Regions from separate parts of the Homo sapiens genome. Here region 2 is reported to be linked to region 1. The links are microRNA targets in miRTarBase. Many come from high-throughput screens and were not tested one by one. Region 1 holds a microRNA gene; the other region holds the end of a gene's coding sequence.
What was found. The annotated mature microRNA hsa-miR-8071 reads CGGUGGACUGGAGUGGGUGG and lies in region 1 at 2,776-2,795, opposite strand. An mRNA with a match to its seed (bases 2 to 7 or 8) in the 3' UTR can be bound and repressed. Matches are read on the target gene's strand: a 7mer-m8 pairs with bases 2 to 8, a 7mer-A1 pairs with bases 2 to 7 and ends in A, and an 8mer does both.

Region 1 (4,619 bases):
TTCCACTGTCCCCACACTGGCCCAGGCTGTGCAGGTGTGCCTGGGCCGCCTAGGGTGGGGCTCAGCCAGGGGCTGCCCTCGGCAGGGTGGGGGATTTGCCAGCGTGGCCCTCCCTCCAGCAGCAGCTGCCCTGGGCTGGGCCACGGGAAGCCCTAGGAGCCCCTGGGGACAGACACACAGCCCCTGCCTCTGTAGGAGACTGTCCTGTCCTGTGAGCGCCCTGTCCTCCGACCTCCATGCCCACTCGGGGGCATGCCTAGTCCATGTGCGTAGGGACAGGCCCTCCCTCACCCATCTACCCCCACGGCACTAACCCCTGGCTGCCCTGCCCAGCCTCGCACCCGCATGGGGACACAACCGACTCCGGGGACATGCACTCTCGGGCCCTGTGGAGGGACTGGTCCAGATGCCCACACACACACTCAGCCCAGACCCGTTCAACAAACCCCGCGCTGAGGTTGGCCGGCCACACGGCCACCACACACACACGTGCACGCCTCACACACGGAGCCTCACCCGGGCGAACCGCACAGCACCCAGACCAGAGCAAGGTCCTCGCACACGTGAACACTCCTCAGACACAGGCCCCCACGAGCCCCACGCGGCACCTCAAGGCCCACGAGCCGCTCGGCAGCTTCTCCACATGCTGACCTGCTCAGACAAACCCAGCCCTCCTCTCACAAGGTGCCCCTGCAGCCGCCACACACACACAGGCCCCCACACACAGGGGAACACACGCCACGTCGCGTCCCTGGCACTGGCCCACTTCCCAATGCCGCCCTTCCCTGCAGCTGAGGTCACATGAGGTGTGGGCTTCACCATCCTCCTGCCCTCTGGGCCTCAGGGAGGGACACAGGAGATGGGGAGCGGGTCCTGCTGAGGGCCAGGTCGCTATCTAGGGCTGGGTGTCTGGCTGAGTCCCGGGGCCAAAGCTGGTGCCCAGGGCAGGCAGCTGTGGGGAGCTGACCTCAGGACACTGTTGGCCCATCCCGGCCGGGCCCTACATCCTGGGTCCTGCCACAGAGGGAATCACCCCCAGAGGCCCGAGCCCAGCAGGACACAGTATTGACCACCCACTTCCTGTCCAGAGCTGCAACTGGAGGAGAGCTGTGCGGAGGCGCAGGACGGGGAGCTGGACGGGCTGTGGACCACCATCACCATCTTCATCACACTCTTCCTGCTAAGCGTGTGCTACAGTGCCACCATCACCTTCTTCAAGGTTGGCCGCACGTTGTCCCCAGCTGTCCTTGACATTGTCCCCCATGCTGTCACACACTGTCCCCATGCTGTCCCCACATGTCCCTGACACTGTCCCCCATGCTGTCCCCACCTGTCCCGGACACTCTCCTCCGCGCTGTCTTGACCTGTGCCCAACACTGTCCCCCACGCTATCCCCCCATCCCCAACAATGTCCCCCACAGTTTCCTCCTGTCCCCTATCCCCGACACTGTCCTCCACACTGTCCCCACCTCTCCCTGTCACTGTCGCCCATGCTGCCCCCACCTGTCCCAACACTTTCCTCCAAGCTGTCCTCACCTGTCCCCAACACTCTCCCCCACACTCTCTCCACCTGTCCCTGACACTCTCCCCCATGCTGTCCCCACCTGTCCCTGATGCTGTCCTCCACACTGTCCCCACCTCTCCCTGTCACTGTCCCCATGCTGTCCCCTGTCCCTCACACTTTCCTCCATGCTGTCCTCACCTGTCCCCAACACTCTCCCCCACTGTCTCCACCTGTCCCTGACACTGTCCCCCACACTGTCCCCACCTGTCCCTGATGCTGTCGTCTGTGCTGTCCACATACTGTTGGTGACCTGGCTCTGTTCTCCAAGTTCAAGCCTCAGAGCAGGCAGTGGTGAGGCCGTGGCACCTGGGTGGCCTGAGGGGTGGGCGGGCCTTGGGGGCAGGGCTGTGGCCTCGCTCACCCCTGTGCTGTGCCTTGCCTACAGGTGAAGTGGATCTTCTCCTCAGTGGTGGACCTGAAGCAGACCATCGTCCCCGACTACAGGAACATGATCAGGCAGGGGGCCTAGGGCCACCCTCTGTGGGGTGTCCAGGGCCGCCCAGACCCCACACAGGAGCCGTGGGCCATGCTCAGCCATCACCCAGGCCACACCTGCCCCCGACCTCACCGCCCTCAACCCCATGGCTCTCTGGCCTCGCAGTCGCCCTCTGACCCTGACACGCCCCCCTTCCAGACCCTGTGCATAGCAGGTCTACCCCAGACCTCCGCTGCTTGGTGCATGCAGGGCGCTGGGGGCCAAGTGTCCCCTCAGCAGGACGTCCCTGCCCTCCGGCCCGCCAGGTGCTCACACAAAAGGAGGTAGTGACCAGCATCCCAGGCCCCCACTCAGGCAGGACCTCGCCCTGGAGCCAACCCTGTCCACGCCAGCCTCCTGAACACAGGCGTGGTTTCCAGATGGTGAGTGGGAGCATCAGTCGCCAAGGTAGGGAAGTCACAGCACCATCAGGCCCTGTTGGGGAGGCTTCCGAGAGCTGCGAAGGCTCACTCAGACGGCCTTCCTCCCAGCCCGCAGCCAGCCAGCCTCCATTCCAGGCACTCCCGTGAACTCCTGACATGAGGAATGAGGTTGTTCTGATTTCAAGCAAAGAACGCTGCTCTCTGGCTCCTGGGAACAGTCTCAGTGCCAGCACCACCCCTTGGCTGCCTGCCCACACTGCTGGATTCTCGGGTGGAACTCGACCCGCAGGGACAGCCAGCCCCAGAGTCCGCACTGGGGAGAGAAGGGGCCAGGCCCAGGACACTGCCACCTACCACCCACTCCAGTCCACCGAGATCACTCGGAGAAGAGCCTGGGCCATGTGGCCGCTGCAGGAGCCCCACGGTGCAAGGGTGAGGATAGCCCAAGGAAGGGCTGGGCATCTGCCCAGACAGGCCTCCCAGAGAAGGCTGGTGACCAGGTCCCAGGCGGGCAAGACTCAGCCTTGGTGGGGCCTGAGGACAGAGGAGGCCCAGGAGCATCGGGGAGAGAGGTGGAGGGACACCGGGAGAGCCAGGAGCGTGGACACAGCCAGAACTCATCACAGAGGCTGGCGTCCAGCCCCGGGTCACGTGCAGCAGGAACAAGCAGCCACTCTGGGGGCACCAGGTGGAGAGGCAAGACGACAAAGAGGGTGCCCGTGTTCTTGTGAAAGCGGGGCTGCTGGCCACGAGTGCTGGACAGAGGCCCCCACGCTCTGCTGCCCCCATCACGCCGTTCCGTGACTGTCACGCAGAATCCGCAGACAGGGAGACTCGAGCGGGAGTGCGGCCAGCGCCTGCCTCAGCTGTCAGGGAGGACTCCCGGGCTCACTCGAAGGAGGTGCCACCATTTCAGCTTTGGTAGCTTTTCTTCTTCTTTTAAATTTTCTAAAGCTCATTAATTGTCTTTGATGTTTCTTTTGTGATGACAATAAAATATCCTTTTTAAGTCTTGTACTTCGTGATGGGAGCCGCCTTCCTGTGTCCACGCGCCTCCTGCCCCCGGTGGGAAGCACGGTCAGGAGGAGGCTGGTCCAGCTGCACCTCGGGGGCTCCCTGCATACGCCCCCCGCCTCCTGCAGCCACACGCATTGCCCGAGCGACCCTCCCTGGCCCCTGTCGCTACATGGACCCCCGGGGTTTCTCCTCTTTTCTACATGGATGCAGTTTCTCCTCCTGCTGGGCACGGTGCTGCCTGCCCTGGTCACTCTGCGGGGGACAGGGCCTCCAGGGAAAGCTGGGTCGAGGCTGGGAGCTGGCTCAGGCTGCCCAGGCAGAGCCACAGGGAGGGCCTTCCAGAACCAACCATGGTCCGAAGCGAGAGGTGGGTGTCAGATCTGTGTGAGTCAGCTCAGGACCACAGCGGGGCGGCTCCCACAGCAGACATGGATCCTCCCAGGCCTAGAGACCAGGAATCTGAGATCAGGATGCAGGCAGGGCTGGTTTCTCTCAAGCCCTCTCTCCTTGGCTTGTAGACACCGTCTCCTCCCTGGTCCTCACATGGCCATCCCTCTGTGTGCCCGTGTCCTAAGCTTCTCTTCTTATAAGAACACACATCGGATTAGATTAGTGACCCCCTATGAACTTAATGACCTCTGTAAAGACCCCATCTCCAAATAGTCACATTGTGAGGCCAGGGATTAAGACTTGAATATATGAATTTGTAGGGGCCACGATTTAACCCATCACAGTCCAGACTCTGGCCCCCAAAATTCATGTTCTTCTCACATGCAAAACACATTCATCCTGTCTCAGCATCCCCCTGGGCACTAGGTCATGTAGCAAGGACGGATTTTCAACAGAAATAACTATTGCAACAGAAGAAAGAGTCCGGCATGACCTGGACTCACCTTCATCTGTGCAGAGGCCACAGCCTTGTAAAGGGAGGTGGTAGGGGGAGCAGGGAGGGTGCTCGGGGCTCAGTCGTCGGGGAAGGGAAAAGTTGCCCAGCGCTGGTCAGCGTCCCCGGGATGGGACCCGCTGTGTCTGTGCCGGCCACTGTTGAGGTCAGGATTCTGTCCTCCCAGAGCCTGGAGACACAGGCCCCATCCTTCCCAATGGGGACACTTCAGGGAGTGGCTCTCAGGTCCCGAGAAAGACCCTCCTGGGTCACAGGAAATGCACAGACATCGGGAAC
Region 2 (4,000 bases), not on the chromosome of region 1:
CTTAGTTAACAACCTGGGGAAAATGTCCTATTGAGAAAATTAAAGCCATACAATTCTAGAATTAGATCTTCACATCATTCTATCTTAAAGATGAGGAACTGAGGCTTAGATAACTCATAGTAACTTGATGAAGTCATGTTTGGTTAGTATTTTAGAGCTTAATGAGCTTTCAAGGTGCTGTTCTTTTTCTGTTCCCTTTCCTTTAGTCGCTTTGGTCTGTGGGTGATCTGTTCCGGGGCCACCATCTCTAAAATACTGAAATTCCTACAGTCCTCACTGAGGGAGGTGCAGAGGACAGGGAGCAACCATTTACCTCTCAATCCTGGGTATGCTTACCCAGTGACTTCTGTATAGCAGACACTCAATATATATTTTCTTTGTGAATAACTAGATTAGCAGAAAAAAACAACACCATAGGAAAGATTCTCTTTGAAGGACTCTTTGGAGATCATTTTTCACATCTGATAATCTGCCTCCAGTTTCATTGTTTTGTGAATCGGGTTTTTTTAGATACATTTTGTCCTTTATTCTCAATTTACACTGTACAGATCGTTGTTCTGTAGATTGATTGGAACATTATTGAAGCTAATTAAAAAATTTAGAGAATTTAGCATTCTGATCAAAAAATTATTTAGATCAGAGTATGTGCTTTAGTTGGTACCATTCCCAAAGAAATCCTCAATGGGATCCACAGCCCTTCCTCCCTCCCCTCCCACCTCATTAGTTAATTTGGATCCCTGTTTATTTCACATTGACTCGCCAAATTTTAACAGGAAACAAACAGCCCTAGGGTATGTTTTCTGGATGCTTGGGCAATTCTTAGTCTGCTTCTGGATTTTTCCTGTCCGTTCTCCTCTTCCACTTCTTTTAAACCCGTTCTCCGGAGACTTGTTTACTGGGGTTGGAGAATCAGAAGCTTGGCCGGGGTGGTGTGAACCTAGTGCCCTCTTGTGGAATTTTGTGAGAATGACAAACTCCCCCAAAGCTTGAGTGCTTTGAGTTTTTTCTTGAGTAGCCTTTAGTGGGAGGACCTTTCTGTTACATCTTAAATCTAGTAAGTTAATAACATGCAGGCTTATTGCCTACACTGAATATTTGAAAGCTATTATGTTGGGGGGTATCACTTGATTACCAGAGGCTTATTGTTATAGAATTAAGCCTCATTACAGGAAACAGGCAGCTAAGTGTTTGTGCTTTTTCATCACCTCCCATTAATGTGTAAGAGAGGTAAAGAGAAAAGGAAGGCTCCCAAAGAAAAGTAATTGAAAAAAGGCTAGGAACCAAGAGTAAAGGGGAAATGGCAAACTTTAGAAGCCTTGGTCAAAAACAAGTCTTATCCCCAGCTCTTGCTTTGGATCTGAGCCCAGAAATGTAAGACCCAGCCAGAAGTTGAGAGTCTGCCAGATTCTCACCCCCCGGGGGAGATGGGGGTCAGGGTAGGGGACAGAAAGTGTTGCATAAACCCACTCCTAAGGGAGGTCTAGGGTGTTTACACTGTGCTGTTTGCTTTACCTGGGCTTTCTGGCTTGTTTTCTTTTCTTTCTTTCTTTCTTTCTTTCTTTCTTTCTTTCTTTCTTTCTTTCTTTCTTTCTTTCCTTCCTTCTTTTCTTTTTTCTTTTTTTTTTAAGACATAGTCTCACTCTGTCACCCAGGCTAGGGTGCAGTAGTGCAATCTCAGCTCACTGCAACCTCCGCCTCCCAGGTTCAAGTGATTCTCCTGCCTTAGCCTCCCAAGTATCTGGGATTATAGGTGTGGGCCACCACACCTAGCTAATTTTTGTATATTTAGTAGAGACAGGGTTTCACCATGTTGACCAAGCTGGTCTCGAACTCCTGACCTCAAGGGATCCGCCCGCCTTGGCCTCGCAAAGTGCTGGGATTATAGGCGTGAGCCACAGTGCCCAGCCGTCTTTCTTCTTTCTTTCACAATTTCATTTTTTTCATTTTGAGATAACTTGTTTCTCCATTGCCATTAGCAAAGTCACTGTGGCCCAGAGGACACAGTCACACTTGCGTCAGACACACCTGCACTTAAATTCCTGTGTTGCCTCATACCAACTGTGAGACTTGGGCAAGTCAACCTGCTGGAGTCTCAGTTTTCTAGAGACTCCTTATAGAAACATTTGTGAGGATTAAAAACAATAACAGAGTCAACTTCAGAAACAAGTTACTGGATTTTATTATACCCCAAAACAAGGAAGAGAGTGGGTGCATTACTAAGGCAGTGACTCAGTGTTCAGGACTGTTGTTGTCACCCAGAGAGATTCACAAAACCTCCAACCTGTCCAGCAATACATTTAGAAGAAACAGGATTAGGGAAGACTCTGGAAGCAAAGAAGGCTTTATTAAACATAACCATGATCCATAGCTGGAGTATACATAGGAAATTTGGTAACTTGGATAAGGCAAAGTCTTTTCCCTTTAGGAGCCTGTACTTTAGTGGGTGAGGAAGAACCTTCTGAAAGAAAATGATTTCAGCAGCAGTATAAAAGAAAGTGGGTCACCTGTATGAGCAAACTAACAAAGCAGATTTAATGTAAGTGCCCAAGAGTTCCAAAACAAGGGAATCAGTAAGAGTTCTGGAGAAGGCCACCTTGGGGATACTTGGTGCGGTGTGGGGGTGGATGTAGGTTTATTCTGGGAATCGAATAACATGGTAAATATGTGACTGTAGGATGACTGGCTGTGATTTGCAAGGAAAAGAAATTTGCAAAGACCCAAGAATGGTATCTGCTAAATTGCATGTGCAAGGGTGGTCATGGTGAAAAGGAAAGTTTGGGCTAGAATAAGAGTAATAAAATGAGAAGTCAGGGAAGTACCAAGCATTTGAATGCTATAAAAATGCTATAGCAGTTGAATTCTATACAAATTTAAATTATGGAAATTTGAAATGTTATTAAGTATTTAAAAAGTCTCACTTTATATGTAAAGTTTGAAATGAAGCCAATTCTTGAAAGCTGCGGAGAGAGAAGGAGGCAAAGCGAGCATAATTTCAGCCTGTATGAATTAATTATAAATTCTATCATGCTATTTCCACATGGTGGCACCACTTTGGTGAGCACGTAAAGTACCCACTTTTCTTTATCAAGATGAGATTTGAATGGGTCCAGTTTTGAGTTGTGAGAAGTCTTTATTCCCTCAGGTAAAAGGCAATCCCTTGTGCCTGATGACGCTAATGACAGCATAACTGCTAGACTCTGTTCTCCTCCCTTCACAGCTCTTCCTTTTGTTGCATTCTCTTCCCCCAGTGGCTTTTCTTGCACACTAAGAAGAAGTGTTCTCCTCGTCCTTTTCCCTCCCTCCCGCAAATCCCATCAGCGTCTCTTTCTCAATCCCTCTCCCCTTATCTTCTCAGTAATTAGAGGCTCAGGGACAGAAAATGCACCAGCACGGGCATGGTGGCAGGCTCCTGTAATTGCAGCTACTCGGGAGGCTGAGGCAGGAGAATCGCTTGAACTCGGGAGGCGGAGGTTGCACTGAGCTGAGATTGTGCCATTGCACTCCAGGCTGGGCAACAGAGCGAGACTCTGTCTCAAAAAAAAAAAAAAAGAAAAGAGAAGAAAAGAAAATGAACCAGCAGACGGGACCAACTGCTAGCCTTCAAGGCCATTACCTTTACCAAGGAGGGTACCATGCTCGTGGCTGAGGAGCCAACAGGAGGAAGATGAGGTGGACGATGTGCCAGCCACTGTAGGCCCTGTCTCAGGGGGAGCTCTTTGGAAGGAGGAGAGCCTGGTCCTCTTTCTCTGACTGCTCCACTTCCTGTAGCAACTTGTAGAGGGGTCCTGGAGTGCTTGCATAATATGGAGCTTCTTTGGGCCCAGTCAGCTTCAAGCTGGGTCTGAAACAATGATACCAAAAGGAAGAGAAGCCATAGATTCCCAACAGGAATGAGGCATTGATCATCACATGCCAGCAGAAGAAGGTGGTGACAAACATGATGTCACTGATGTCATCGTCCTGCCATGGGTAGCCAGAGACGGGTCTGTATAGAATAAAG

Region 2: miRTarBase lists TEDDM1 as a target of hsa-miR-8071. Seed matches in the 3' UTR shown: 7mer-m8 at 3,669-3,675.

Annotation. Positions count from the first base shown.
Region 1 is chr14:105,638,379-105,642,997 of GRCh38, reverse strand. It overlaps MIR8071-2 (microRNA 8071-2), which reads right to left and starts at 2,830; the gene lies at 2,766-2,830. It also overlaps IGH.
Region 2 is chr1:182,395,962-182,399,961 of GRCh38, forward strand. TEDDM1 (transmembrane epididymal protein 1) reads right to left here. Exons shown (of 1, transcript NM_172000.4): 1 at 2,156-4,000. The coding sequence ends at 3,703. Among named protein-coding and RNA genes, the nearest start is that of TEDDM1, 2.7 kb to the right of the region's middle.